5 linked regions of the Homo sapiens genome follow. The protein of the gene in region 2 purifies or fractionates together with the protein of the main gene of each other region. This does not show direct contact. Each region holds a gene or a part of one and is shown on either strand. Other genes may lie near its edges.

Region 1 (6,580 bases), on a different chromosome or scaffold from region 2:
TTTATATTCTAATAGGGGAAACAGCAAAAAATAAACAAATATTATATAATATAATCAACACACACAGGACAAGAAGTAAAAAAACTTTTTGGCTCTATCTCATAAAAGCAACAACGCAGAAACCTACCAGTTGATACTTTATCATTTTGGTTTGCTTGAATAATCAGAACAAAAAAAGACTGCGATTTTTATAGTATGAACGTTAAGGTCCGCTGCATCACGCATCAACAATAATGATGTTCTGAAAATGTCTCAGGATTAACCTAGCTCCCTAGCTGAGAACACTAAAACCATGTAAGTCTAATTCTTATGATCAACCGTTTGGATTCTCAAAAATCTAAATAGTTTGGAAACTCAAAATCTTAGTTCTTCAACCAAACAAGTGAAAAGACAGTGAACAATTAAAACAATGGTTTGGCAAATGTTTATTTAAGTACTTACAAATTTCAGGCACTATGTTAGGAGTTGAGAAAACAGATGTATAAGATGTTATCCCTACCTTCATAAACTTTATACTCTAAAAGGAAAGAAGATTCCAAGTGGGGTAATTACAATAAAGTGGTACTAATGTAGCACTATGGGCTAGGAACTTCACAAAGCAAGGAGACTTAGTTTGCAGGGTCAGGGAAGGTATCTTAAGAAAAATGATGTTTACACAGAAACATGAAGGGGCAAAGAAGTGTCTGAGGTGGAGGAAACATACTGTGCAAGGGCCTGGAGACAAGACAGCCTGGTTCAGTTGAAGAAGTGACGCAAACTTCACATGACTGAAACGCAGAGTACAAGGAATAAGGATAGCGCTACTGGGTCCATAAGCTGTACTTTATTTTTTTGAGAATTTTTCATTTATTTCATTCTTTTTTCCCCTATTTTATTTATTTATATTTTGGATTCAGAAGGTACATGTTGGGGGTTGTTACATGCATGATGCTGAGGTTTGGGAATATGGATGGTCCCATCACCCAGGTGATGTATGTAGTACCCAAGCTGTGTTTGTTTGTTTGTTTTTCTGGACCTTATCCTAAGGAAGGCAACTGAAAAGACCGAAGCATGAGAGTGAAATGAGTGCGTACTTTGCAAAAACAGCTTTAAAGTCTAGGCTTGGGAAGAGCAAGCATAGAGGCAGGGAATTCAAGTAAAAGAATGTGGCAGTTCTCCAGATGAGAAACAATAATGGCTTGATTGGCATGGATGGAATCCCAGAAAATGTCAGGAATAAGGGTTGGGAGTTGACTGCAATGGGAAAATACTGGGGCAGGAAAGATTCAGTAATTGGCTTCTCCATTTCTTCTACATTATCCAAATAGGATAATGATTACATCATTTACTGAGATTGAGAATACTGATGAAGCAGGTTTAGGGAAAGATGATGAATTTATCCCTCACTTGGATAAAGGACACAAAATTAATAGGTTTTGATGTGGCTTACTCAGCACTAAGAATGCACTAAGAAAAACACTAAGCAGATCAATTTAAAAATTAATTTTCTAGTGATTAGCAATAAACAGTTTTAATGACCTGTAAGGCTTAGTAATCACTCTTGGCAAGACATCAGAGTCCCAACATCGGTCACTTATTGAAGACTGGCATATAAACACAAGGAGCAAAAAAAAGCAAATGATGTGCAACGTTAATGAAGTTGTTAAATGTTCAATGTAAAATAAAGCACAAGAAAATGTTTTCTCTTTGATTTAAATTACATAAAATATGGTAAGACAGAAACCACAGTTAATGTTGAGTAACAGCCTATAGCTAAATGATAATATAACAGGAACTTTGTAACCACTATACAGGTTGCATCACAAATAGTAGTAGTGAATTAACGTAACAAGGAGTGACTATGTACTTTATTCTGTTGTAAGGAATATAAGAAGACTTTTATATCTGAGAATACTTCTAGCAATTGCATTTTCCCAGAACATTTTACACAAAAGAGCTCACCTACCGTACTTGTTTGGCAGCTTCAAGTATACAGGGCACAAGCCGAAACACTGGCTGCTCTTCAGACTCTTCCTGGGGTTGGTCCAGAGGCTGAGCAGCCCCATTTCTGACCCATTCTAACATTAGTTTCTCATCCAAATCAAAGAGCTTGTCCACAACCTCCCCCACCTTCACCAGCAAGTCAACTGCAGAGAATAAAACAGATATTGAAATGAAAAACAAACTGCTAAAAGCAATAGGGTTAAGCAAAATTCCTAAAGCTATTCTAAGAAAACCAAATCTTGCCAAAGCAGTACTTATTCTAAAGGGTGATTTACTTATCTTTTATGTTTAAATTTGCTTATCTTTCCTCATTTTTAAATGAGGAATTTATCAGTGTCCCAGGAGTTTAAGAAATTTTGTATCTTCAATCAAAAAACTTTCTCAAAAAAACAAACAAAAAGCTGGACATGGTGGCTTACACCTATACTCCCAACACTTTTGGGAGCCCAAGGCTGGATGACTGCTTGAACACACGAGTTGGAGACCAGCCTGGGCAAGAAAGCGAGACCCCGTCTCTACAAAAAATTTTAAAATGAGCTGAGCATGGCGGTGCATGACTATAGTCCCAGCTATTGGGGAGATTAACAGAAGGATACCTTGAGATCAGGAGTTTGAGGCTGTAGTAGGCTATGATCACACTACTGCACTCCAACCTGGGTGACAGAGCAAGATTCTGTCTCAAACAAACTTCATTACCTTGCACTCAAGGCTTTTTTTAAAAAGGTGACTTCTAGAAATAGTTACATGGTTTCCTAAAAATTAGATACAATTTAAAACATTTTTTTTCTAGAGTACATGATGACTTACCATTTGTTGAACTTGACATAATGAAGCAAATGCTATCATAAATAGCTGGATGTTCCTGGATCCTTTCAACCCAAACACTGGCCACTTCTGCCTGGGAAAGGCAAGTAAGCAACAACCTACATGGTAAACGTGGGTTGAATTTCTACTTTTCAAAAAAAAAAAAAAAACAGTAAAGGAAATTCGAAAATAAAAAATTAACTTTTTTTTCTTATCTACTCTTATGAGTAACCTTATAGAATTCATAAAAGGAAAAGCATACCTGCTTGTTTCCAGCAGAGTAGGTGGGTCTGAATCATACAAACAGTGCAATAACACCTGCCTACAAAAACAAAGAAGTTAACCGATATGCCTCACTTCTCGCATTTAAAATATCAGAGTTTTCATTTAATTTTTTGAACATCTTTATTGTGAAATACAGCATATATTCAGAAAAGCTCAAAAGATACAAATCTATAGTTAATAAATAATTATAAAGCAAACACTCGTGTTTCCAAGAAACAGAACAGAGCTGCATCTTTGTAGTCACCATGTGTCCATTCCAAATCACAATTCTCTTTCCCACCTAGAAATGATGACCATTCTGATTTTTCCAGCAATCATTTCCTTACTTTGCACTATAGTTTTATTATTTTATATATTTTGGTGTTGCTTTATACTGCAGGTAAAAGGATTAAGAGGACATGCTGAATAAATAGACATAATCTGGGAGGTTATTTGGATTCATGAAGACAGTCAAGGAGGGGAGACAACATATGAAATAAATTATACTTATTGAGTCTTCATTTATTTGCTGAAAATTATACATGTAAGATCTACCCATGTTGTTTCTTTAGCTGTTATTCTTTGACAGACTGCTGCAGAGCACTCCATTGTGTGAAAATAACACAATTTATTTTTCCAGACTACTGTTGATGGACATTTCTGTTGATTCCAATTTGGGGCTATTTCAAGCAATCCTCCTACAATATTTGTTAAGAGTTATCCTGATGCACACGTGCACAGTTTCTCTTACCATATATGCCCACTATGAGCTGGTCACAGCACATGCATATGTTCCAACGTGACCAGATAATGCCCAACTAAAGTGGTTCAACAAATTTATATCCCATCAGCAATATAAATTGCACCACACTAATATTAAGACAAGCATTTAACTGAATTTATAACATTTGTTAACATTTCTCATTTTTGGATTTTTGATAGAGAACATTAGAGACCAAACATAATCTTAAGTCATTTGTTCCATGGATGATGGTAAATTACTGAGGAATAAATACTCTGAACTAGGATCTTAAAGTCCCTCCACAACTAGGAGTTCTCTCTTTCTGAGAAACCCAGGTACTTGAATCCTGTGATAAAACCCTCATGGCCCCAGCTCTGACAAAAACTGCCTAGAACAGTTTTCTTAACCTATTTTGGGTACAAATTTCTTTGAGATTCTGATTAAAAGCCATGAACCCTTTGCCTAGAAAACTAATACACTCACAAAATTCAGCATATAATTTCGGGGTGTTCTCCGAACACAGTAACCACTGGGGTTTCCTCCATTAAAACACCTTCTGCCCAGAACTTTACACATGGAGAAGAGAACGAGCCTCGAAGCAGATATCTGAAAGTCTTTTCATCAGAGAGGCAACCCTTTATCTTCCAGTTGTTGGCAAGTCTTACACTCTAAGTCAGAGCTCTCAGGATGACATTATTCAACAAATCTAGTTTCTGTAGACTCCAGCTGAGTCATTGGATTCCCTGCCCCTAAACTGTTTTGGATTCCAGTTGGCTGCCCCATCTCCAAGTTTTGGCCCACTGGTTCTTCCCCTATCTGGCTTATTGCCACCAGCTGACAATTCAGGTTCCTTTGCTACTGAAGAAAACAGGCTTAAATCCTGAATCATTTCAGTATCTCCTGAAGAAGCCCCTAGCTATCATCAACACACAATGAAGTTCCCACAGAGTGTTCATCAAGACAAAGAAAGGACTGTCTTTCAGATTTGCTACTTTTCCTATGTATTAGAATTTCCTTAAGGATATAAATGAATATATTAAAAAACATAATTATATAGTAAGACTTACCCAAGATTTTTATCACTGCTGATGGACACACATATCTCCTGGAAACAGGCCATATTACCTAAAATTCCCACACAGATTTCCTGCCAAATCAAATTTTACAAGTCACAATGGCTCTGAGACGAAAGACGTAAACAAAAATATCAACTTGAACAAAAACTTTCGCTGAGCCAAGTTTTGGGGCAAGGCGGAGGGGAGGCAGGATAAAGAAATACATATACTGCCTGTACCCTAACCTTGACAAGCTTACAGTATTTGAGAAGGGATGAAAAACGTAAGAACAAGAAAGGGCAAAGGCAGGAGCTATGCGAGAAGAACTTCTATCGATAAAATGAGTTTTAAATGATTGATAGGAATGAGATATGCAAACAAAAAGACAGACATTCAAATAAGGGGAAAGTATCAGCAAAGGCAGGAAGGGAATCATGTACATGGCGAATACTGTAGACAATAAAGTACTCTGGTTGTGGCACAAAGTGGGTGAACAGCATGAGGTAAATACTGCAGGTATAAAGGACTGAGATTAAGGGCTCTGAATGCCGTGCTGAAGAATTAGACTTAATCTGGGAAGTTATTTGGAATCATGAAGATGCTCAAGGAGGGGAGACAACATACTGAAACAGTATCTTAGGAAGATTACTCTGGTGGCGAAATGCATAATGTATTAGTGTAGTCCCTCTTTATCCATGGTTTCAGTTACCCATGGTCAACCTTGGTATAAAAGTACTAAATAGAAAATTCTAGAAATAAACAATTCATGTTTTAAATTGCATGCCTTTCTGAGCAGCACGATGAAATCTTGCACCGTCTCACCCAGGATGTGAATCATTCTTTTGTTCAACATATCCACACTGTATGTGCTGCCTGCCCATTAGTTACTTAGTAGCCATCTTGGCTATCAGATCGACCATCGGGATATCTCACAGGGCTTGTGTTCATGTCACCCTTATTTTACTTAATAATGACCCCAAAGCACAAGAGTAGTGATGCTGGCAATTTGGATATGCCAAGGAGCCGCCATTAAGTGCTTTCTTTACATGAAAAGGTAAAAGTTCTTGACTTCATAAGAAAAACAAACAAAAATGTATGCTGAGGTTGCTTAGGATCTCTAAGAACAAATCTATCCATGAAACTGTGAAGAAGGAAAAGGAAATTTGTGCATATTATAAATAGGGTTCAGTACTATCCTCGGTTTTAGGCATTGGGGGCCTTGGAATGCAACCCCCAAGGATAAGGGGAGACTAGTGTATAGGGAAAAGAAGTTGAAAAGAACTTAAGAATCTATCTCAGTAATAGTTAATTAATATGTAATAACAGTTTATTACCACTCACGGTGGCCAGGCATTACTCTAAGCATTTTCTGTGTATAATTTCATATAATAACTTAGGTGATAGGTACTAATAGTATCCCCATTTTTTCAGATGAGGAAACTAAGGCACAGAGAAGTTAAGCTACTTGCCTAAGATCTTAAGATCTCCAACTAGAACACGGCAGAGCTCCAGAGCTTGAGCATTTAACCACTATTCCAAACTGCACCTCAGTTATCAAGATGCAAGAGGAGGAGGGCCCTCAGGCATGGAAAAGGATGAAGCTGAGGAAGACTCTCAAGGTGAAAGCAAAATAATCCAGTGTGAGGATAAAGGAGAAAGCAGTTGAACTTGACTCCTAGCTTTCAAGTTGCCTCATTTCCCCATCAGTGATATTGGTCCCGTTGACAGGAAA
Region 2 (4,999 bases):
CGCTGAATTTGCCCAAGTCACAAATTGGTGAGTGCACAAGCCCTGGAGCTTTGTGGAAAGGAAGTCCTGAACCTCAAAACTCCCTTTGGGGAGAAGGCAAAGACTCCTACTCCTTTTCTGATTGCTCACCATATTCTCATTCCTCCTGTTCCCCCAAAAAAGAATACAAGAAAAAGTAGGAAAAAACCATGTCCTTACTGGAAATGAATGTGAGCTTCTGGGCTAGGGTAGGGATAGGTGCAGGAACTCTTCATGTTAACCCCTTCCTTAGGTCCAGCTGCTGCTTGCGTGTCTTTGCATGGCACCCCCACACCAACAAGTTTGCAGTGGCCCTGCTAGATGACTCAGTCCGTGTGTATAATGCCAGCAGGTGTGTGTGGGGACACCAGGTGGGCTCTGACTTGTCAATATCACCTTCCCTTGCCAGCCTTGGTTCCGGGGAGTCCTGTAGTTCTTGAACCTGATTCATGGGGCTCCTTCCAGAACTGGGGTCAGGGAAGCTCCATAACTGGATGCGTGCTTCTTCTAGACCTAACCTTTATCCCCTCCTGTCCTATGGTGCCCCTGGCCCCTGGATGGATCATCCTTCTTCTCTGTGGCTTTCCCTCCTTAACTGCACTCTGGTCCCTGGAGCCTTAGTGTTCCTGCCTTGACTCAGTTTCCTGCCCCTTCACCCTAGCACCATAGTCCCCTCCCTGAAGCACCGGCTGCAGCGAAATGTGGCGTCTCTGGCCTGGAAGCCCCTTAGTGCCTCTGTCTTGGCTGTGGCCTGCCAGAGCTGCATTCTTATCTGGACCCTGGACCCTACCTCCTTGTCTACCCGGTAAGTCCTAGTAGCCTGCCTTACCTTGGCCTGAGAGTTGTGCAATGCTAGGCATGGTGGGTGGTGAGGACGTCTGAAAGGAGAAGTTCTTTGTCCTCACAGCACTTCCCAGGGCTATGGGAAAAGCAGAAGTAAGATCAAGGTGGGTTGCTGAGAATACTCTAATCTGGAGAAAGAGAACTAGGGGCTTTTTGGATTGTGGGGACAATGTGTCTGTGGGTTACGGGGTGGAAAGACTCTTTCAGAGGACTATACACTTCCTTTACACTTAAAGGAAGTGTAAAGAAAATTAGTACTAATAAGATCAGAAACTAATAAAATTAGAAAAAGAATACCTGTGAAAACTAACTAAAAATAAAACCAGAAACTGGTTCTTTAAATTATGACTAAGCTGGGTGCGGTGGCTCATGCCTGTAATTCCAACACTTTGGGATGTGGAGGCGGTTGGATCACCTGAGGTCAGGAGTTCGAGACCAGCCTGGCCAACATAGCAAAACCTTGTCTCTACTAAAAATATGAAAATTAGCTGGGCATGGTGGTACACACCTGTAGTCCCAGCTACTCGGGAAGCTGAGGCAGGAGAATCGCTTGAATCTGGGAGGCGGAGGTTGCAGTGAGCCAAGATCATGCCACTGTACTCCAGCCTGGGCAACAGAGCGAGACTCTGTCTCAAAAAAAAAAAAAAATTATGAATAAAGGCTGGGAACAGTGGCTCACACCTGTAATCCCAGCATTTTGGGAGGCCAAGGCGTGAGGATCACCTGAGGTCAGGAGTTTGAGACCAGCCTGGCCAACATGGTAAAACCCGTCTCTGCTAAAAATACAAAAATTAGGCCAGGCGCAGTGGCTCATGCCTGTAATCTCAGCACTTTGGGAGACCAAGGTGGGTGGATTTCTTGAGGCCAGGAGTTCGAAACCAGCCTGGCCAACATGGCGAAACCCCATCTCTACTAAAAATACAAAAAAATTAGCTGGACGTGGTGGTGCGTGCCTGTGATCCCAGCTACTTGGGAGGCTGAGACACAAGAATCACTTGAACCCGGGAAGCGGAGGTTGCAGTGAGTTGACATCATGCCACTACAGCTGTACTCTGGTCTGGGCAACAGAGTGAGACCCTGTCTCAAAAAAAAAAAAAAAAAAAAGGCCAGGCGCGGTGGCTCACGCCTGTAATCCCAGCACTTTGGGAGGCTGAGGCGGGTGGATCATGAGGTCAGGAGATAGAGACCATCCTGGCTAACACGGTGAAACCCCATCTTTACTAAAAATACAAAAAATCAGCTGGGCGTGGTGGTGCTCGCCTGTAGTCTCAGCTACTTGGCAGGCTGAGGCAGGAGAGTCACTTGAACCTGGGAGGCGGAGGTTGCAGTGAACTGAGATCACGCCACTGTACTCCAGCCTGGGCAACAAAGCAAGACTCTGTCTCAAAAAAAAAAAATATATATATATATACACACACACACACATATATGTTTTATATATATACACATATATATACACGTATATATATATATACGTGTATGTATACGTGTATATACGTATATATATGAATAAAGAAGAAAACCTCTTGGTTAGCCTAATTAAGGAGAAAAAGAAAACCAAAGTATACTATTTTCAGAAGTGGAAAGATATAGATACGGGAGAAAATAGAAGAATTATAAAAGAATATTGTGGACTTGTTTAGGCCAACAGATTTGAAAATCTGAAGGAAATGTTTGATTTCTTTTTTTTTTTTGAGAAGGAGTTTCACTCCTGTTGCCCAGGCTGGAGTGCAGTGGCACGATCTCGACTCACTGCAACCTCAGCCTCCCGGGTTCAAGTGATTCTTCTGCCTCAGCCTCCCAAGTAGCTGGGACTACAGGCACGCACTAGCTAATTTTTGTATTTTTAGTAGAGATAGGGTTTCACCATATTGGCCAGGCTGGTCTTGAACTCCTGACCTTGTGATCCGCCCGCCTTGGCTTCCCAAAGTGCTGGGATTATAGAAGTGAGCCACCGTGCCCTGTGGAAATGTTTGATTTTCTAGCAAAATATAAGTTACCAAAGTGGATTGTAGAAGAAAATAATGAGATTTTTTTTTTTTGAGATGGAGTTCCACTTTTGTTGCCCAGGCTGGATGGAGTGCAGTGGTGCAATCTCGGCTCACTGCAACCTCTGCCTCCCGGGTTCAAGTGATTCTCCTCTTGACTTCGTGATCCGCCCGCCTCAGCATCCCAGAGTGCTGGGATTACAGGCGTGAGCCACCATGCCCGGCCTGTCCTCCCTTTTTTTTGTTGCAGGATCTTCCTGATTTATTTTTATAAAGCTAATGTAACCCTGATACCTAAACCTTGACAATAGGTACTATAAGAAAAAAACACGTGATCACAGATTTTTTTTGGGGGGGGATGGAATCTCACTCTGTCGCCCAGGCTGGAGTGCAGTGGCGCCATCTCAGCTCACTGCAACAACCTCTGCCTCCTGGGTTCAAGCGATTCTCCTGCCTCAGCCTCCCAAGTAGCTGGGACTACAGGTGCGTGCCACCACACCGGCTAATTTTTTATTTTTAGTAGAGACAGGGGTTTCACCATATTGGCCAGGCTGGTCTCAAACTCTTGACCTCAGGTGATCCGCCTGCCTCGGCCTCCCGAAGTGCTGAGATTACAGGCATGAGCCGCTGCAACTGGCCTGTTTTTTGGTTTTTTTAGAGATGGGGTTTCATTATGTTGCCCAGGCTGGAATACAGTGGCTATTCACAGACTCAATCATTGCACACTACAGCCTTGAACACCTGGGCTCAAGTGAGCCCCTTGCCAAGTAGCTGGGACTATAGGTGCGTACACCACGCCTGGAAGGTTGTTGGTTTTTTTTGTTTCTACTAAAAATACAAAAATTAGCTGGGTGTGGTGGCGTGCGCCTATAATCCCAGCTACTCAGGAGGCTGAGGCAGGAGAATTCACTTGAACCCAGGAGGTGGACGTTTCAGTGAGCTGAGATAATGCCATTGTACTCTAGCCTGGGTGACAAGAGCGGAACTCGATTTAAAAAAATTTTTTTAAATAAATGAACAAAAAACAAGGCCAGGCGTGATGGCTCATGCGTGTAATTCCAGCACTTTCGGAGGCTGAGGCAGATGGATCGCTTGAGCCTAGGAGTTTGAGACTAGCTTGGTCAACATAGATGCTGTCTATACAAAAAATAAAAATAAAAAAACTAGCTGGGCGTGGGGTGTACGCCTGTAGTCCTAGCTACTTTAGAGGCTGAGGCAGGAGCCTCAGGACTTTGAGGCTGCAGTGTGCTATGACTGTGTCACTGCACTCCATCCTGGAGTGTGAACCACCATGCCTGGCCCAGGAAATATTTTTTACAGCATTATGTATAATAAAAAATTACAAACAAGTCAAATGTCCATTTGTAGAGGCATGACTCAATAAATTATAGTTCATCTATTGAGTGGTATACAATGGAGCCACTGAAAAGAATGAGATGAATCTGAACCCACCTGCAAAGGCAGCTGTGATTTATCATAAAGTTCAAGAGAATTAAATTGTACATCCATGACTAAGACTTCACTGGAGCTGAAGGTGGTTATAGTTAGGTGGAAAGAGAGGTGGCATTAATTCAGGTAGTAGCCTTCGTCTGTCAGGCCAGGCACATGGCTCTGGAAATACACAGCTGCAGACACATGGCAGGTGCCCTCAGGTAGTTCCCTGCTGGTGATGGAGGCCGAGCCACATGCTGCATCTTTTTTTTTTTTTTTTTTGAGACGGAGTCTCGCTCTGTCGCCAGGCTGGAGTGCAGTGGTGCAATCTCGGCTCACTGCAACCTCCGCCTCCCGGGTTCAAGCAATTCTCCTGCCTCAGCCTCCCAAGTAGCTGGGACTACAGGCGAACACCACCACGCCCAGCTAATTTTTTTGTACTTTTAGTAGAGACGGGGTTTCACCATGTTGGCCAGAATGGTCTCGATCTCTTGACCTCGTGATCCGCCCACCTCGGCCTCCCAAAGTGCTGGGATTACAGGCGTGAGCCACTGCGCCCAGCCTGCAGCATCTTTATGATAAGGAGCAAACGCGGGAGCTGCAGAGTTGGGAGGTACTTTGATAAGGCAAGGCAGGAGGGCTGTTTGGGAGCACAGGATGTGTTCTGAGGAGTGTTAGATAACTGGAGAGAAAAGGTTGGAACCTTGAAGTAATGTCAT
Region 3 (6,580 bases), on a different chromosome or scaffold from region 2:
CAGCCTAACATAGTATGAATTGTATCACTTACAGTTGATCTTCCCATTGTATTTGATTAGATACAGGCGTTCTAAAATGCAAATGTTTAAAAAATACAGATAGAACTTGAAATTGAACAAAATTAGATACAACTGAAGCTGAAAATGGACACTTGATTTTTAAAAATTGTAATAAAATGATCTAGATTGTATACACCATCTGTTACAAGTTGTATGTGAATAAGGATTTTGTGCCATGTTGGTTGTGAGTACTCTGGGTTTTAAACCAGTTTTTGCATCGAATATAACTTTAATTATGCTCAGTACACGTGGATGTGTTTTTTGGATATATCCACACACAGTGTACTTGCATGTGTATCTTCATCTTATTTATTGTTTGGTAAGGGACACATTGCTCAGCTTCCTGGATATCTTCCTAGTCTTAGAGGGGCCTCAGTGGTAGAGTTCTTATCAGAACCTAAGGGTGATGACCTCTGGCCTGTGACATGGCATCTGCCTGAACATGAGTGTGCCACAAGATTGTATCTAAGGTGGTCTCAATCTCTTTTCTTCCTTCAGACTGCCTTGCTTGTCCTTTGCTGGCATCTGAGGACTTGTCCTGTGGAATGAGGCTAGAAAGAGGCGTCTCTGTATTTCCCCACTGTGCATCTACTTGTACCTCCAATCTTTCCCTTTACCACCCATACATGGACATATGCTTCCAGTTCTCTGGACATATGTTTTCTGTCTTCACCACTAGGGTATATACCTATGGGTGGAATTGCTGGGTCATGTGGTACCTCTATAATTAACTTTTTGAGGAACTGTCAAACAGTTTTCCAAAGTGGTTGTACCATTTTATATTTTACAGATCCACCAGAAATGTATGAGGGTGCTTATTTCTCTGTATCCTCATCAACCCTTGTTATTGTCTGTTTTGGTTTTGTTTTTTAATTGTAGCTATCCTACTGGGTATGAAGTAGGATTTCATTGTTTTGATTTGCATTTCCCTCATGACTAATAACATTGAGCATCTTTTTATGTCCTTATTTTCCACTTGTGTATCTTCTTTGGCGAAATGCCTATTCAAGTCCATATGCATGTTTTAATTGGGTTGTTTGCCTTTTTATTGTGGAGTTGTAAGACTTCTTTACGTATTCTGGATACTACACCCTTGTCAGATACATTATTTGCAGATATTTTCTCCCATTTTATGGGTTGTCTTCACTTTCTTGATACTACTCTTTGAAGCATAAAAGTTTTAAATTTTGATGAAGTCAATATTTTTTTTTTTTGCTTTGGCTGCTTGTGGTGTTATATCTAAAACCCGTTGCCTAACCCAAGATCACAGATTTTAACTCTTGCATTTAGGTTTTTGATCCATTTTGAGTTTAAAAAATTTATTATATGCTATGAAATAGTTGTCCAACTTCATTTTGAATTATTAGACCAGTTTCATTCTTTTGCATGTGAATACTCAGTTCTCATGGTACAATTACTTGAAAATACTATTCTTTTCCCATTGAATTGTCTTGGTACTCTTGTCTAAAATCAATTGATCATAAATATATGAGTTTGTTACTAGACTTTATTTTGAGATAGAGTCTCGCTCTGTTGCCAGGCTGGAGTGCAGTGACGCGATCTTGGCTCACTGCAACTTCTGCCTCCTGGGTTCAAGCGATTTCCTGCCTCAGCCTCCCGAGTAGCTGGAACTACAGGCACGCACCACCATACCTAGCTAACTTGTGTATTTTTAGTAGAAATATGGTTACCCCCTGTTGGCCAGGATAATGTCGATCTCTTGACCTCATGATCTGCCTGCCTCGGCCTCCCAGAGTGCTGGGATTACAGGTGTGAGCCACCATGCCTGGCCTGTTACTAGACTTTTTTTTTTTTGAGACAGAGTCTTGCTCTGTCCCCCAGGCTGGAGTGCAGTGGCAGGATCTCCACTCACTGCAAGCTCCACCTCCTGGGTTCACACCATTCTCCTGCCTCAGCCTCCCAAGTAGCTGGGACTACAGGCACCCGCCACCACACCCGGATAATTTTTTTTGTATTTTTAGTAGAGACGGGGTTTCACCATGTTAGCCAGGATGGTCTTGATCTTCTGACCTCGTGATCCACCCACCTCGGCCTCCCAAAGTGCTGGGATTACAGGCGTGAGCCACTGTGCCTGGCTGTTTTTAGACTTTTAATTCTGTTCCATTGATCTGTATAGATGCCTGTCCTTATGCCAGTACCACACTGTTTTGATTACTGTAGCTTTATAGTAAGTTCTGAAGATTTTATTCCTTGTTTTTGTTCTGTTCCTTCATTATTGACTTGGCTTTTTTGACAGTTTGATTATGACATCTAGGTGAGGCTGGCTCCCTTTTAGTTTATTTTACTTGGAATTCATTGAGCTTCTTGGGTGTAATTTTTTTCATGTCAAATTTGGAAAGTTTTTAGCCATTATTCTTTCAAATATTCTTTCTTCTTTTCTCTTCTGTATGTTGGTATGCTTAATAGTGTCCCTCAGGTTCTGTGACTCTGTTTATTTTTCTTCACTGTTTTTTCCTCCTGTTTCGCAGTTTGGGTAATCTCAATTGACCTGTCTTCAAGTTTGCTTGTTCTTTCTTCTAAATGCTAAAAAGTGGTTTTGAGCCCCTTTCATGAACGCTTATCTTTTCCCCCTTTTACTTTTGAACTCCAGAATTTGTATTTGATTCTTAAAAAAATGGTAATAATAATTTCTATCTCGTTATCAGTATCAATAGTGATACTGATATTTATTGATATTCTCTACTTAAAAGACGTTATTCCCATACTTTCCTTTAGTAATTTTTGCATAGTTTTCTTAGCTCTTTGAGCATATTTAAAATAGGTGATTTAGAGACTGTTTTCTGCTAAGTTCTTCATATGTGGGCTTCCTCAGGGACAGATTTTATTGATTGCTTTCTTTTTCCTATGTATGGGCCATACTTTGTTGTTTCTTTGTCTAATTTTTTTTTTTTTGCTGTTATTGAGAAATGGATTTTTAAATAACACAATGGGGTGACTCAGGAAATCAGATGCTCCTTTCTTCCCATGGTTGCTATTGGTACGTGATATAGTTGTTCTTGTTTAATGACTTTTCTGAACTAATTCTGTAAAGTTTGTATTCTTTATTGTGTCTGACCAGTGAAATCTGTACTTGGTGAACTTAGTGGCCAAGTAATTATTAGATGGCGATTTCCTTAAACTCCTGGGATCAGTAAACACCTGTTTTTGTCGAGGGGCTTCATCTACCTGTTGGAGCATACCTTCATTGCTTGGCCTAACAGTTAAAAACTGCCTTAGCCTTTATTTCCTGCTGATGTTGAGTCAAAGTCAGCCAGAGGTGAGAGCTTAAGGCCTTCTTAGGTTTTTCCTGAGTGTGCAGTGAAGCTCTGTACATTCATGTGTCTTTCTAGATTCCTGGGAAAATGTCAAAGCTTTTCAAAGCCCCCACGGACATTTTATTTCCCACCTTTGCCTTTGGTTTGCCTCAGTTGTTATCTGCCACCTCAGGAGGCTGCAAAGTTAAAACACTTGCCGTATTTTCAACAGACACTCCTGGGTTGGGAGGAAGGCTTTTCTGAGTTTAGCCAGAAACAGTCAGTCAGTCTTGCAAATGAGGTCTTACAGGGAACCATCAGACAGGTCAAATGATGACAGTTCTTTGAGAATGAAGCTTTGAAAGAGCTCTAAGAGCACTGTTTTCTCCAGCGATGGCTGCTACGCTGTACCAGGAATGCGGCCTGCTGAGAGCCTGGAGAGTGGGGATGGGTCTAGGCCAAATTAAAATATCACAGAGCTCACTGTTCTTACTGAGATGTGGTTGTTTTCCTTGAATTAATGCTCCCTGGGTTCCTGCAAACCTTTGGTTAGTTTCCAAAATCCATAAGAAGTTGATACTGACAATTTTTGCCAACTTTTTGGTTGCTTTTATGGAGGAGAGCTTTTTGGAGGCCTGTAGTAACCACCATTTTCACTGACATCCTTTGGATCAGGAATCTCTTAAATCTTTTTTGTTTTCCTGAGGGTTCTTGCTGCCCTTCTTTTTTATCTTGTTATCAAAAATAGTATACTTCATCATAACCTCAGAATTACCCAGATTCATTAATACTGAGTATTGTCTAGAAATCTCTTTCTGCCTGAACTCCACTCTAGACTGGTTATTTCCTGTTCTGCTGTATAGCTACACTCCTGGTATTTTCTTCCTGCGTTTATAGATTAAATGCAGTTTTTGGACTTGAGTTGGATATTCCTCTTTTTCAGTTTTCATCCTCATTTTGTTTTTCTCAAAGTGATATATAATGTAGAATTGTTGTATATCTTAAAATGCATTTATTTTAACTTTTCACTTATTTCTCAGTTTGGGTGTATGTAGAATTCTAGCTTAAAAATAATTTTCCCTTGTTAGGATTGAAAGGGATATCTTCTTACACTCTGTGTAATTGATTCTGGAAGTCTATTCCATCTCTTTGTGAGTAAGCTTTTTCTCCTCCTTGGAACTTTCAGGACCTTTTTAAAAACACCCAGTGTCATAAAATTTCATGAGTCTTTCATTCATTCTGCTTAGCTCTTGGTGGGACTTTTCAATCTGGAGGCATATTTTCCTTTGGCTCTGGAAAATTATCTTATTACTGTCATAATTTCTGGAATGCCAAATTGATTGCCTGAATTGATCTGTGTTTCTACCTTGATTTCTTTGACTTTATCTTCCAGCCTCTTTATTGAAGTTTAATTTTAGCTACTGTATTTTAAATTCTTGTGTTCTTTCTTTTTGGCCTAATTGTTCTATTTTCATATTTTATTCTGGTTATATGGATATAGTGTCTTCTCAGATCTCTGTGAAGACATAAAATAGAAATATTTTTGGATATCTTTTTTCCAAATTAGCTCTGTATTTTTTTTTAACTTGTTTTCATCTGCCTGTTTTTTCTCACAAGATGCAGTCTTCAGTTCTCTAGTTTTTTTTTTTTTTTTTTTTGAGACAGAATTTCACTCCTGTTGCTCAGGCTCCTGTTGCAATGGTGCAGTCTCGGCTCACCGCAACCTCTGCCTCCCAGGTTCAAGCGATTCTCCTGCCTCAGCCTCCGGAGTAGCTGGGGTTACAGGCATACAACACCACGCCTGGCTAATTTTGTATTTTTGGTAGAGACGGGGTTTCTCCATGTTGGTCAGGCTGGTCTCGAACTGTCAACCTTAGGTGATCTGCCTGCCTCGGCCTCCTAAAGTGCTGAGATTACAGGTGTGAGCCACCATGCCCGGTCTTTTTTTTTTTTTTAATACAAAAATATTTTTCTCCCATTCTCTTGAGTGTGGGACCGTATTGATGGGTTTGTCTACTGTGTGTCTGAAACCTGCTCGTCCCACCACCACCGACAGCTGAGTGGATTGACCAGTCAGCTTTGCTTTATAGGACATAGGGTCTTGGCATCCTAATGCTTGAGTGAGTAGGACTTCACTTGACACACAGGCATCCACACTAGGTCCTCAGACTGCTGGTCAGTGTCTTTGGAGCAAGGTCCTCCATTCTTCTGTAGCAAACAGAGGGATTCCTGTCCCTTTCAGTGGGGCGTCCAGGGCCACAGCAGTTCCCACATGTGCCCCTGGCCTTGCTCCTGCTCTGCATACCTGCCGACTCCCAACTGGAGCCTATGTAGCTGTGGCTTCTGGATGTCTCCTACCCTATAGGATTTGTCTCCTGTGCCCCTCCTCCTTTTGTCTTCTGCAGATTTGTTGACATCTCATCTGTTCCTGGCCTCCCTCTTCCCCCATTTTCACTGTCTGGGGTTTTTCTCTTCATGCCTATTATGCCTGCAGTTCACAAGAGGTCAGAGAGATGGCTGTCTGTTCCCAGTGTGACATCTTCACCTGGGACCTCTGGAAGCATTTCTTGTCTGGTTTTCTCCCTTGATGATTTGGTTCATTCCCCTGGGTAGGCAGTGTGAGAAGCTTCCCCAAATTTGGAAATTATTATGTTATATAGAGCTGGGTGGGAGAATTATATTTGTTAAGTGAGCTTGTTCTTGTGAAGGCAGGCTGAGGAGCCTTGGGCCCTCTGTGTCGTGTTTCCATTGCACACAAGTTCATGGTTAGACATGATTTGGCCCAACATGTGTCTGGATCATTTCAGGAGTGAGTGGATCTGTTGTTCCATTTGCTCACGTTCCTCATGGTGTTAGAAGGTAGGGAGTGAAGCTCAGTTGCCTATTGTTCAATAGGACTAGCCAAGTAAATACCCTTTTCCGTGGTAAATTCCCCTATGAAAGGTCATGCAAGTGGAACTGCGATCTCATGAGAGGATGCTTCCTTGGAGTCTGCATGTGAACCTGGCAGAGCCGCCTGTGGTTAGCAGAATATCTTCGCTGTGTCCCCCAGTGGGCAGCCTTCTGCCACCTTCTCCCCTCACTGCATGGCTCAGGAACTATCTTTCATTTAGTAACTATCTGATGGGCTGGATGTGGTGGCTCACATGTGTCATCCCAGCACTTTGGGAGGCTGAGGCAGTAGGATCACTTGGGGCCAAGAGTTCGAGACCAGCCTGGGCAACAGCAAGACCCCTGTCTCTACAAAAAATAAAAATAAAATTAGC
Region 4 (6,040 bases), on a different chromosome or scaffold from region 2:
CCCTGGAGAAAACACATGGAGAAGTAAAAATTGAAAGAAGATTCCAATAGGAAACATGAATAGATATCCTCTTACTGCCTGAATAATTACTTCTCTTTCACCTGATCAAGGCTGAGTAAATGTTGATGTCCCTTCCTGCCTTGTGAGCCTCTGCAGGGTTATGTGGACAGGCCTCCTGGCTCCCTACCCAACTCCTCAATCTGCCCACACAGCAGTGTAGCTGCACCCACCGGCCCTGTCCCTGGTGAGGGAGCTTGAAACTCCTGCCGAGTTTGGAGTTTGCATCGCAGAAAAACTCAAGCTGTCTCCAGAGTGCACTCAGCAAGAGCAGCATCTGACTGAATTAGAGCCTGATGCTTTACCTAGCCTGGAAACAGTGATTGAGGGCCCTGCCCTGGGACCTCCAAGCCTCCAGAACACCCCTCATTGGACCCCATCCCCAGGAATCCAAACCCTCACGGAAATCTCACCAGGCCCCCCAGGACCTCTGTCCTCAGGGAGGAGGTAGCAGATCAGAAGACAGTGCCCAAGAGCTTGGGAGGAGGCCAGAGCATGACTCCAGGCTCACTCCCTACTCAGAGCAGCTTCCAGGGCTTGGGTTCCAGGGGACCCAGGAGGTAGCTGCAGGTGTCCCAGCCCCTTGTTGGGGGGTTCCCTCAGCACATTTCAAGCATTTCTTCAGGGATGCACAACCAGGGGGTGCCTAACACTAGCCAAGGGGCAGGGCTGCACCTCTACCATAGCAGCCAGGAACCCAGTGCAGAGTGGTTCTGGAATCGGAATGGGCTGGAGGGAGCAAGTTACACAGAGGCCCCATGAGAGACCCCAGGATCCACTGAACACAGAGCCACCACTGCAGGCCAGATGGCCTGACACCTGTGGGCACGCTGACCTCCCTGTCTCCACACAGTCACCTCATCGGGCAGATGGTGTCCCATCTCAGAGATAGCTGGCCAAGGCTCAGGTGATGGGGATCGCAACCTTTCATGCCCGGCCAAGGCTGCCCCAAGAACATGGAGTAGACTCAGATTCTGTCCCCTACACTGTGCCCCCAATGGGGTCAGGCTCAGGCCACCCACCCAGACCTCCGGTCCAGTGGCATCCACCATGCAGATCCCCAGTGCCAGAACCTGCCTGCCTGGGCATTGAAGGGGAGCTGGGCCTCTAAAGGCAGAGGAACTACCAGGGTCGTGCCTGCCTCCACTCACAGGGGTCCTGGGATCCAGCAAGAAGATCCTGGATCCAACAGCCCACATGCAAAAGACACAGGTCCACAGAACTGGAGCCTGGACAAGGGCCTGGCCAGAGGCCTGGAGATAAAGCCCCTCCACCTGCTCTAGGGACCCCCCAGGACCAGCATCTGCCTCCAGCCAGACCTGACCAGGGCCTCTCGGTCCCCAGAAAACCCAGGCAGGGGTCCTAGCAAGCCCAAGGCAGCTGCAAAGGGAAAACAGAAGAGAGAGAAATCTTCCCTGTCATCCTCAAACCAATGGGTCAGGGATGGGAAGTGCCCAAGGGGCTGCGAGTAGCTAGGCAAGTCCCTCCTCCTGTCAGGCCCCTCTCCTATTGTAACACTCTCTGAGCCCCCTAAGCGCTGACATTCTGGGATTCCAGAACCTCAGTTGTTCCCTATCTGTACAATATGTACAGGGGACTCATCAGTCCCAAGAGATGCACCGTCTCTCTGAATAACATGAAACAAAACAGGAAATTCCAGAAGTAAGGTAACTTTACTCAGATAAAACACAGATGGTAGCAGATAGAGGCCACAAGCTCATGGGATGCCATTCCAGAGGGCCCCTCACCCACAGAGGAGCCCCTGTAGGAAGGAGGCCCAGGCCCCATCCGCACAGCAAGTCCCGGTGAGGGGCTCTAACACACCCCCACTCCAGCCTCTGGTCATGGACACAGCCCATAGCGGGCACAGCATCATGATGGAATGGACTCTGCAGGCCACGCATGGCTCCTGGGAACCCCCAGCCCCTCCCTTCTCCTCCCAGCCTTTCCAGCTGTCTTCCCACCAGGAGGGCTCGGAGGTCACAGCACGGAACGTCTTCCAAGAGCCCCTGCCTATCTTTCTGCCTGGATGTAGGCAGGAGCTGGGGCTGGTGCAGGAGCCAGGGCAGGAACCAGAGATGGGGTCAAGCAAGGAGTCCTAGTCCAAGCAGGGCCTAGACTGCGGCTAAGGCTAGGCTGGATTCTGTGCTAAGAAACAGCATAGAAACCTGCGGGCAGAGGCTCCGGCCCAGCCTGCGGAGCACAGGATGCAGCAGGTGATTTCTGTGCCCAGCACACAAGCTCTGGCCTTATCACATTTTCCTCCACTGGCCCTAGAATGAGCAAAGAGCTTGGGCGGATAGCCTGAGCCTCAGCCAGGGAGCAGGCTGGCCTCGAGGGAGCAGGTCAGCCCAGGAAGGGAGGGGTCTGCCCATGACCAGGTGGGGTGTGGCCACAGTAGCTGGAGATTGGCAGCACCCACCCGCTCTCCCATCCCCAGGGAACTTTCTTCCAGCTTGCCAGGTGTGACCCACTCCATCTCACCGGGACCCTCACAGCAGCGTGTCGGTGCGTTTGCTGCGCCACACCACCAGGCCAGCCATGGCGACAGTCAGAACGACGGGTATAACGATCAGCGGGATGAGAACCTCGTCTGGGGGGTCCTCCAAGTGGACCCTGTCCACGGTGCAGTTGGAGAAGAACTGCCTGTGGATGCCGGTGATGAAGCCCTGGGCCAGGGGGTTGGGCCAGTAGCAGCCCACGACATTGGCCTCCATCTCGGTGCAGTTGGTGAAACTCTCATAGTACCTGCAAAAGCAGAGGGGGTGAAAGCCAGGCTCTCGCCATCCCCCCTCACACCTGCCCTGACCTGAGGCCAGGAAGATGGGTGGGGTGGCTTGGGTACAGTCCCATTTGGCCACCTATTCACAGCCCAGCCTTGGAAAATCCCCATTCTGGCCACAGGGTCATCTGTGCCCATGACCCATTCCCTGTGTCCCCTGCCCACATTTGCATCACAATGACCATGACTTGCTGCCTTTGAGGCCATGAGCTCCCAGGATCCAGGGTCTCAGCCCAGCTTCCCTGGACCTCTAAGCACTACGCAGGTCTGCCCAGAGGACACACCAAGCCATGCTTCTCCAGGGCCAAAGGGTGCCTGGATCACAGCCGCTTGGACCTGCAAAGCCTTCATCATCCAGGATACCCTAAGAGCCTGAGAGGAGGGTCTCTCTGAGGCCAGGGGCCAGCCACCTCCTAATCAAGTCAGCCTGCCCTCATGTGCCAGGTGGTGGCCAAGTGGGAGTCAGACCTGTGAGCCCCAGTCCCTGCCTCTTCATCTCCTACTCAGAAGTTGCCTCCTTCAGCCCCATCTAGCAGGACATGTGGAGCCCCCTCCTGTGGGTCCCCCTGTCCATGAGATCAAAGATGGGAAGGGCACTCAGCAAACCACCCATGATGCTCCATGACCGCCCAGCACAGGCTCTGGACAGTCCTCATGCTGACCAAGGGCTATAGCCACCAAGACCCAGAGGTCAACTCAGCATAAAGGACTTCCCAGCCACCACCTGTTCCAATGGGCAGCCTGTGGAGGTGATGACCTCCCTGTCATTGGGGTCTGCAAGGCCTAGAGTGGCAGCCACTCATTCAGGATGTTCTAGACGAAGCTAGATGGACTCCTGCCCAGATGCCACCCCCTCTGTGCAGGGCTAGCACTTCCCCACGTCTGTGCTGCATGAGTACAGATGCAGGAGTGTGAAGGGTCCTGCCTCGGCTTCCCCATGGGAAAGTAGCCCATCTCCTCCTTCCCGCGCTGTCCCAGGAGGGAGCCACTGATCTGGCCCATCAACAGGAAAGAGCTGCCTCCTGCATGGAACATCATCTGGGCGTAGATTTCCCAAAGCATCAGAAAGGGGTAGGAAACAGGGACTCTGACCTACTCCACCCAGGGTTCTCCTGGTCTCCCAACCCCATGCCCCAGGAAGGGTCTGGGAAGCCCAGGTACAGTCACTCAGCCCAGCTCCTGACTGATCCAAGGCTGGCTCTCAGCACCTTGGAATGTAGGTCAGACACACACCTGTGCCTTTCCAGGTAGTGTCAGCAGAGAACAGCCAGAGCAAAAGAAACAGCCTCGAATCCAAGTACAAAGCTGTTGGCTCTCCTGGGCCTCAGCCACAATGCAGCACCTGAGACATGCCCAGGCATTAGAGACACCTCAACAGCTAGGTCCATGGACAAACCCTCATCTTCCCTGACCTGCTTCTCCCACAGGGCCTCAGATTCAGTAGCCTGCTGTCCACCCCAACCCCCCGCCAGCTGATCCAGGAGCTGGGGAGCCGTCTAACAACACCCTGCAACAGCCTTCACCTTCAGAAGTTCCCAGCATCTATGTGTGTGATGAGAATCACATGCGGTAACCTCTGTGCCTCCAAAGTCATTCCACTGAACTGCTACCCAGGAATGCCACCCCCCAACAACCATCCCCAGGGCTGAGATGAGCCAGACAGACCCTGGAGAAGACCCTCTGTGGACAGCGAGTCTACAGGGCAAGAGGAGTGATGTCTAGCCCCAGAACCGTCCCAAGAGGAGGTGAGGCAGGGCTGAAAGCCCCTGCTGTTCCCAAACCCCACTCCCAGCCAAAGCTAGGCCACATGGAGAAGCCCACGGAGCAGAGGTAATCCCAGAAGACAGCATGGACAGTGGCTTCAGGCTCAGGTTGCAGAGCCAACATGGCAGGGCCTCTCCAACTCCAGCTCAGCCACTCACCATCTTTGTGGTATGGGCCATGTCATTTATCCTCCCTGGACCTCAGTTTCCTCATCTGTAAGTGGGTTTAATAACACTTATCCTATCAGGTGGTTGAGAGAACCAAATGAGTTGAGGTCCATGTGCCCCAGCAAGTGCCTGGCACAGAGGAGGTCATGGGGTGAGCCCACCCCAGCTGTTAGGTTTGGGGCAGAGCTGAGCACAGCACCCATCTCTGTGGATCCACAAAATCTGCATTTTTGTCACATATCTAGAGAGGTCCACATTCAGTGCTTCTCTAGAAAACCGGGAACTACTTATGATTTATTCATCCCCTGGATAATCTGGGGCCTCTCCACTCCTCCTTCAGTCAGGCTCCCCAGAGCACTCTCCCTAAAAAAGATGCACCACAACCCAGGATGGGAAGGAGAGGAGCCCAGCAGGCTGGAAGCCGGGCAAACCCCCCAGTCAGACTCCCTCTCCCCCCACCCACCTCTGGGGTGTTTGCCCACCTTCCTTTATGTTTCACCACCTGAGTGTGTTCCCAGGCAATATAGTGTTGCATTTGGAAATCCCATAGCAATGCTCCTTAACTGGGTACAGAAGGAGCCCATTGCTGCTATTGGAGGGAGGTTCCCAGGAGAGGACACGCTCTGGTTGCCCCGAGGGGCAATGAGACTCCTCCCCAGGGAAGGCCACAGGCAGGCCATGGGCGAGTTTGGGGAATAGGGTCTTCCCAGCCATGACTCGACTCCTGATGGGGTCGTCATGTGGACCAGTCCTATTGAGGGGAGCAAGCCACCTCTCCTCTAAGCTCACCAAGGCCCACCCTGCTTCAGTGGGGACCAAAGCAGAATGAACATTCAGGGGAAAGAAAGGAGTGTCCTTCATTCTTGACTGAGCTGGGCTGCAGGGCATGGGCAGGCAGTCACCATGTCAGGTAAGCATCAAGTGCCCTCCACCTGGGCCAGGCTGCCTCCACCCAGGGTGTACTGCCACGCTGGGGCACCGCCCTCCCTGGGGCTTCCCTCTCCTGCCTTGGCTCCGCTCCCCAAATCTCATAGCTTCTTTTGTCGTGGTTTGCTCCACACCTTGGCGCACAGCCGCCAGAGCTTGAGAAAGGTATGTGGGAATCAGATGCTGGAGGTGCCACACGTCTGACAGTATTTTCGTTTCTCCCTAATTAGTGGACAAATTGGCGGGAAATAGCACACTAGCTGAGAAATCACAGTCCGAAATTCTCAGGTCCTTGCATCCCACAGTCCTCGGTTTCCAGGGCTGCGGTGGGGGAGCCTGAAGG
Region 5 (6,580 bases), on a different chromosome or scaffold from region 2:
TCAGGAGAGAATTAACTAAGAGTCTGGCACCTTTTTAAGTCTGATAAGAAATATTTACAATCTATTTTCTCTGAAGCCTGCTACCTGGAGGCTTCCTTGATAAACCCTTGATCTCCACAACCCGTCTTAAGCAAAATATTCCTTTCTATTGATTCTAGGTCTTTAGATAACTCTTTCAATCAGAAAATCTTTTTTTTTTTTTTCTGAGTCTCATTCTGTTGCCCAGGCTGGAGTACAGTGGCATGATCTCGGCTTACTGCAACCTCCGCCTCCTGGATTCAAGTGATTCTCCCGCCTTAGCCTCCCAAGTAGCTGGGATTATAAGCACCCACTACCATGCCCAGCTAATTTTTGTTTTTTGTTTTTTGTTTTTTTGAGATGCAATTTCGCTCTTGTTACCAAGGCTGGAGTGCAATGGTGCAATCTTGGCTCACTGCAACCTCTGCCTCCCGGGTTCAAGCAATTCTCCTACCTCAGCCTCCTGAGTAGCTGGAGTTACAGGCACCTGCCACCATGCCCGGTTAATTTTTGTATTTTTAGTAGAGACGGGGTTTCATCATGTTGGCCAGGCTGGTCTCGAACACCTGACCTCAGGTGATCCACCTGCCTGGGCTCCCAAAGTGCTGGGATTACAGGTGTGAGCCACCACACGTGGCCTAATTTTTGTATTTTTTGTAGAGATGGGTTTTGCCATGTTGGCCAGGCTGGTCCCAAACTCCTCAGCTCGATGCAATCCGACCACCTCAGCCTCCCAAAATGCTGAAATTACAGACGTGAGCCACAGCACCTGGCCAGAAAAATCTTTAAATGTGTCTATGACCTGGAAGCCCCGGCTTTCAGCTGCCCTACTTTTCCAGACCACACCAATGTACGTCTCACATGTATTGATTGATATCTCATGTCTCCCTAAAACGTATAAAACCAAGCTGTAGCCCGACCACCTTGGACACATGTTCTCAGGAGCTCCCGAGGCTGTGTCATGGGCCTTTGGTCACTCATATTTGGTTCCGAATAAATCTCTTGAAATATTTTATAGAGTATTTTCATTGACAGATGGTTGCTAAAATGCAGGTGGCAGAGCCAGCTGTGTTCTACCTATGACAATTTTCTGTGGCGCTCACCACCTTGCTCATGGAGGGGGGCTTTACCCATTGACTCCTGGAGTCATTCAGTCTCTGTGACTAATGCCTTTCATTCTACAACTTCCCACATATAAATGTGGCCTGGCTGGCTCAGTTTTTCCCTGGACAGTCTCCAGACATTATTTTCCTTCTGTTTCTACAAGCCTGTTTGCAACAAATCTTATGACACAAACAGATTAATTTCAACGACCATCACAATGTTGAATTTTTTTCTCCCTCAACAGATAAGCATTTTTTACACATCTAAGCCAAGATGCACAAAGGTCAATTATGCTGCAGGGCATTTGAGAAGGGGGTTGGTTCAGTTGCGAACTGACCGCTGAGATGCAAACCCCAGTGTCTGGTGGGAGGGACAAGGCAGGGACTTTCAGATTTTACTATAAATGCTTGAGTATTGCTTGAATCCTTTATGCTAAGAATGTATTTCCACTCTTCCTTAATGAAAAATAAAATTTAAAATTAGCCAGGCATGGTGGCAGGTACCTGTAATCCCAGCTACTCAGGAGGCTGAGACAGGAGCATCACTTGAACCTGGGAGGTGGAGGTTGCAATGAGCCGAGATCCTGCCATTGCACTCTAGCATGGGTGACAGAGTGAGAGTTTGTGTCAAAAAAAAAAAAAAAAGAAATAGAAAAAGAAAAAAAAAAAAAAACAGGTGAGCATGTTGGCTCACACCTGTAATCCTGGCATGTTGGCAGGGCAAAGTGGGAGGGTCACTTGAGGGCAGGTGTTCAAGATCATCCTGGGCAATATAGCAAGATCCCATCTCTACAAAACAAAAAATAGGCTGGGCATAGTGGCTCATGCCTATAACCCCAACACTTTGGGAGGCCGAGGCAGGCAGATCACTTGAGGTCAGGAGTTCAAGACCAGCCTGTCCAATGTGGTGAAATCCCATCTCTACTAAAAATACAAAAATCCGCTGGGCGTGGTGGTGCACGCCTGTAATCCCAGCTACTCGGGAGGCTGAGGCAGGAAAATTGCATGAACCTGGGAGAAGGAAGCTGCAGTGAGCTGAGGAAGGGCCACTACACTCCAGCCTGGCCAACAGAGTGAGACTCCATCTCAAAAAATAAATAAATAGGCTGGGCGTGGTGGCTCACACCTGTAATCCCAGCACTTTGGGAGGCCGAGGCAGGCGGATCACAAGGTCAGGAGATCGAGATCATCCTGGCTAACACAGTGAAACCCCATCTCTACTAAAAAATACAAAAAATTAGCCGGGCGTCATGGCAGGCGCCTGTAGTCTCAGCTACTCCAGAGGCTGAGGCAGGAGAATGGCATGAACCTGGGAGGTGGAGCTTGCAGTGAGCCAAGATCACGCCACTGCACTCCAGCCTGGGCGACAGAGCGAGACTCTGTCTCAATAAATAAATGAATAAATAAAAGAACAGTTAAGAAAAAAAAAGGAGCGAATGTTATAAACAAACACGGAGTTTCCTGTACTGCTGGTAGAACGGCCTTTCAGTGCTTTGCTTCCTGGATCCGGGTACCAGCTCTGCCTCTCACCAGCTGACCTTTCGGGGTGCAGGGGCGTGGTCACTGATCCTTGGGAAGCCTCAGATACCTCACCAGCAAGATGGGCTGAGCACAGATTAAGAGAACATATTTTAAGAATTTAGCATAATAGGCCGGGCATAGTGGCTCACGCCTGTAATCCCAGCACTTTGAGAGTCCGAGGCAGACGGATCACGAGGTCAGGAGATGGAGACCATCCTGGCTAACATGGTGAAACCTCGTCTCTACTAAAAATACAAAAAATTAGCCAGGCATGGTGGCGGGCGCCTGTAGTCCCAGCTACTCGGGAGGCTGAGGCAGGAGAATGGCGTGAGCCCAGGAGGCAGAGCTTGCAGTGAGCCAAGATCACGCCACTGCACTCCAGCCTGGGTGACAGAGCGAGACTCTGTCTCAAAAAAAAAAAAAAATTAGCTGGGCATGGTGGTGTGCACCTGTAATCCCAGCTACTTGTGAGGCTGAGGCAGGAGAATTGCTTGAACCCAAGAGGCAGAGGTTGCAGTGAGCCAAGACTGCGCCAGTGTACTCCAGCCTGGGCAACAGAGTGAGACTCTTGTCTCAAAAAAAAAAAGAATTTAGCATAATGCTGAGCACTTAAGAAGTACTTAAGCAGTAACTGCTAGACAATATAGACGATATTGTTATTGAGATCCTTCCTATATAAACTTCATCTACAAATCAGTAGGAAAAAGATGAATCACCCAATGCAAAGATAGCCAGAAGACAAACTCATTTTAAAATAAATTCATCCAGGCTGGGCACTGTGGCCCATGCCTGTAATCCCGGCACTTTGGGAGGCCAACGCGGGCAGATAACCTGAGGTCAGGAGTTCGAGACCAGCCTGGCCAACATAGTGAAACTTCGTCTCTACTACAAACACAAAAAAATTAGTCAGGTGTGGTGGCGTGTGTCTGTAATCCCAGTTACTCGGGAGGCTGAGGCAGGAGAATCACTTGAATCTGGGAGGTGGAAGTTGCAGTGAGCTGAGATCACGCCAGTGCACACCAGCCTGGGCAACAGAGTGAGACTCTGTCTCAATAGATAAATAAATATATATATAATAAAATAAATTCATCCTTATTAGGCAAGAAAGGCAAAAAGCAAACTAACAACAACGAGGCAATTTTCACAAGACCTCCTCAAGGCAGGAGAGGGCAGGACCCCGAGGTAGGGAGAAGTAAGTGTCATGCCTTAGGCAAGCCGGGTTTACACCCAGAGCCGTCTCTTCCAACTTCCTCTCCTATCACTGCACCTCCTGCTCCCATGTCAATGACTTCTCTTCTCTTTGGATCTCAATGTCCCCATCTCTACAATGGGGAAATCCCAGCCTTGCAGGTGTTGTTTGGACAGTGACCAAGAAGACAGGAAAAAAGTACCTGCACAGAACCAGGCCCACAGTCGGTTCTCAAACACCGGAGCCTTCTGCTGTATTACAAAGTTTGATGGGCGACCTTACGGAAAGCATTGAAGTTCTTTTACCTTCCTTCTTTCGGTCTCTGGAGAGGTTAAGTGCCAGCTCCTGGCCTGTTTCCCCATCACTAAGACAGGAATGACACCACCTACTTCACTGGTGAGCTTCAGTGCTAACGGACTGGCTGGAAAGTGCTGGTAAACAGTCAGTGCTCAGTAAGTGACAGCCTTACTGTGAGCCCACTCTCTCGTCCTATGAGTCCTGACCATCTGTCTCTGGGAAGCCAGAGGGGCACCTCTATGGTGTCCCTGACTCTGGGATCCCAGCAGCAGGGACAACCAAGCCATCTACCTGATTTCAGCATACATGCCACCACAGGAGCCTGGGATCCCCTGCATTGGAAGGCATGCCGCCCTCGGACATGGACTCAGGGAGACCTGGCTGCAAACTCAAGCTTGCCCATGCATGCTGGGGAGGGCATGACCTTCAGAGCCTGTATTCTGCCATCCAGGAAACAGGGAAGAGGTGCCCCCAGACAGAGGTGACGCAGGACCTGCTGTGTGGGATGCCCACTCCTACCTGCAGGATGTCATGTGTGGGCTCCTGGGATCCGTCTGCAGAGACTTTAGGTGCCGTCTTTACAATGTTGCTCAGATCAACCCCTGTTGGGGGTGGGGGAAGCAAGCACACAGGGGTCAGAAAGAAAGTGACAGCTGTCATCCCCGTGGGCCTGCTGGAATCACACCTCAGGACCCTTCTGCTGGGACCACCCCACTCCAGAAGCCTCCCACCTCCCTATTCCCGCCCATGCCACATCATCACGGGGGTGTAGAGGGTATTGGGTGTTTCTGCCACTGGTCCGTGGGCCAAAGGGAGCAGAGTGGTAGTGAGGCCGTTGTCACACAAGGCTGTCATCACAGGCCACGTCTGTGCAGTGAGGTGCCACATGCTGCCTGGTGGGCTTGGTGGGGGAGGGAGGGACCCCACAGCCTTCTCCCTTGGGGCTCCCATCCCTCCTGGCTCTGGCTGCATTCTTGCCCCTGCTGGCACCCCCACAGGGAGCCCCTACAGTGCTGGACGCTTTTGCTTGTCCCACTGGCCCCTGTCTAGTGTTCTATACCCCACTCTGTGCCTAGGAGGCTGACCTCTGACCTCTCAGGCTGTACCCTGGGTTTGTTCAATGGGGAAGTGAACTTGAGATGGGGGCAGGAGGAGGGGAGTGTGGGGTGTTCATTCCCAGCCCCCTGCCTCTGCCCCAGGGCCCAGCACCCATCATGTGGCCCCTGCCCAGGACTCCTGCTCCCTGCAGTCAGGGTCTCTGCCGGAGCTAGTTGTGCTAGGGGTGGTCTCCTAACCCCACCCACACCATTGCAAACAGCCCCTCATAACCACACTCATCTGCACCTGGTCTGAACATGCCACCTGTTTCCACAGGCTGCTTCTGCCTCTGTAAGCTCGAGGTAGGGTAGAGTAGGGCAGGGAGGCAGGGGCCCTGTTTCCCAGGCCAGGGTCAGGGAAAGTCTCTTCAAGGAAGTGATCAAATGAGACTCATGAGAAGGATCCAGCCCACAAATATCTGGGCGAGGTGGAAGCAGGTGAGAGGTGGGAGCAGGATAACCAGCCTGCCTCGGGCAGAAGCTGGAGGGGACAGGGCCCAATGGCACCTGGTTTCTATGCCAGGCATGTGGCACCCCCAGTGGGGCGGGGCAGCAGGGCTCTCCCACTGCTCTTGCATCTAAGAGCCAAGGATGGTAGGTGACAGTCACACCACCCTACCTTGCGATTCAAACTGCTCCACGGCCTCTTTCACTGCCTCCTCTGGCCCCATCGCAAACTCCTCGATGTTCTCGCGCACAGCTGCATCAAAGGTCTCCTGGGCAATGCGCTTGGAGACCATCTTCGCCTGTGTTGATGTTGGCGTGCAGCCGATAGATGCTCCTGAGCTGAGAGGTTAGGGCAAAGAGAGAGCTACCTCAAGGGTGAGCAGGCAATGGCAGGGCCTGGCCACCTTGAAAACGCCACTTAGGAAGCATCTACCAGCGACCAGAGCCCTACAACCACCCTGGAGAAATTCTTCCCACCTGTTATCACAGGAAAGGGTGATATCCCTACTTCCCTAGAACTTCTGCAAATACAGAAGAGGCCGGGTGTGATGGCTTAGCCTGTAATCCCGGCACTCTGAGAGGCCGAGGTGGGAGGATCACTTGAGCCTGGGAGGTCAAGGCTGCAGTGAGCCATGATCACACTACTACACTCCAGCCTGGGCCACAGAGTGAGACCCTGTCTTGGGAAAAAAAAACAAAGTGTAGGAGAGAACACAGAGTTTACTACATTTTATCTAAGAAAGGTGGTTCTTTAATATAATGATACTAGTAATGTTATTCTGAAACTATTACGGATGTAGCAAATAATAATGATTATCTTATTAGGAATCAGAATAAAAGAAAAAAGATTCTGGCTGGGCGCAGTGGGTCAATGCCTATAATCCCAACACTTTGGGAAGCTGAGGCAG

What was found.
Region 1: the proteins of AAAS (region 2) and SAAL1 purify together in Homo sapiens (co-immunoprecipitation; one large-scale study listed by IntAct). This does not show direct contact.
Region 3: the proteins of AAAS (region 2) and NUDCD3 purify together in Homo sapiens (affinity purification with a luminescence readout; one large-scale study listed by IntAct). This does not show direct contact.
Region 4: the proteins of AAAS (region 2) and RAMP3 purify together in Homo sapiens (co-immunoprecipitation; one large-scale study listed by IntAct). This does not show direct contact.
Region 5: the proteins of AAAS (region 2) and ARMC6 purify together in Homo sapiens (co-immunoprecipitation; one large-scale study listed by IntAct). This does not show direct contact.

The regions. Positions count from the first base shown.
Region 1 is NC_000011.10:18,087,385-18,093,964, forward strand, and holds part of SAAL1 (protein SAAL1), read right to left. Parts: intron 4,941-6,580; coding exon 4,861-4,940; intron 3,110-4,860; coding exon 3,050-3,109; intron 2,907-3,049; coding exon 2,791-2,906; intron 2,127-2,790; coding exon 1,946-2,126; intron 1-1,945. UniProt on the Homo sapiens protein: Plays a role in promoting the proliferation of synovial fibroblasts in response to pro-inflammatory stimuli.
Region 2 is NC_000012.12:53,310,122-53,315,120, reverse strand, and holds part of AAAS (aladin), read left to right. Parts: coding exon 1-27; intron 28-271; coding exon 272-370; intron 371-679; coding exon 680-823; intron 824-4,999. UniProt on the Homo sapiens protein: Plays a role in the normal development of the peripheral and central nervous system.
Region 3 is NC_000007.14:44,405,959-44,412,538, reverse strand, and holds part of NUDCD3 (nudC domain-containing protein 3), read left to right. Parts: intron 1-6,580.
Region 4 is NC_000007.14:45,179,922-45,185,961, reverse strand, and holds the end of RAMP3 (receptor activity-modifying protein 3 precursor), read right to left. Parts: intron 2,806-6,040; coding exon 2,550-2,805; 3' UTR 1,712-2,549; downstream 1-1,711. UniProt on the Homo sapiens protein: Accessory protein that interacts with and modulates the function of G-protein coupled receptors including calcitonin gene-related peptide type 1 receptor (CALCRL), calcitonin receptor (CALCR) and G-protein coupled estrogen receptor 1 (GPER1).
Region 5 is NC_000019.10:19,042,142-19,048,721, reverse strand, and holds part of ARMC6 (armadillo repeat-containing protein 6), read right to left. Parts: intron 6,037-6,580; exon of another isoform or gene 6,012-6,036; coding exon 5,845-6,011; intron 4,731-5,844; coding exon 4,648-4,730; intron 1-4,647.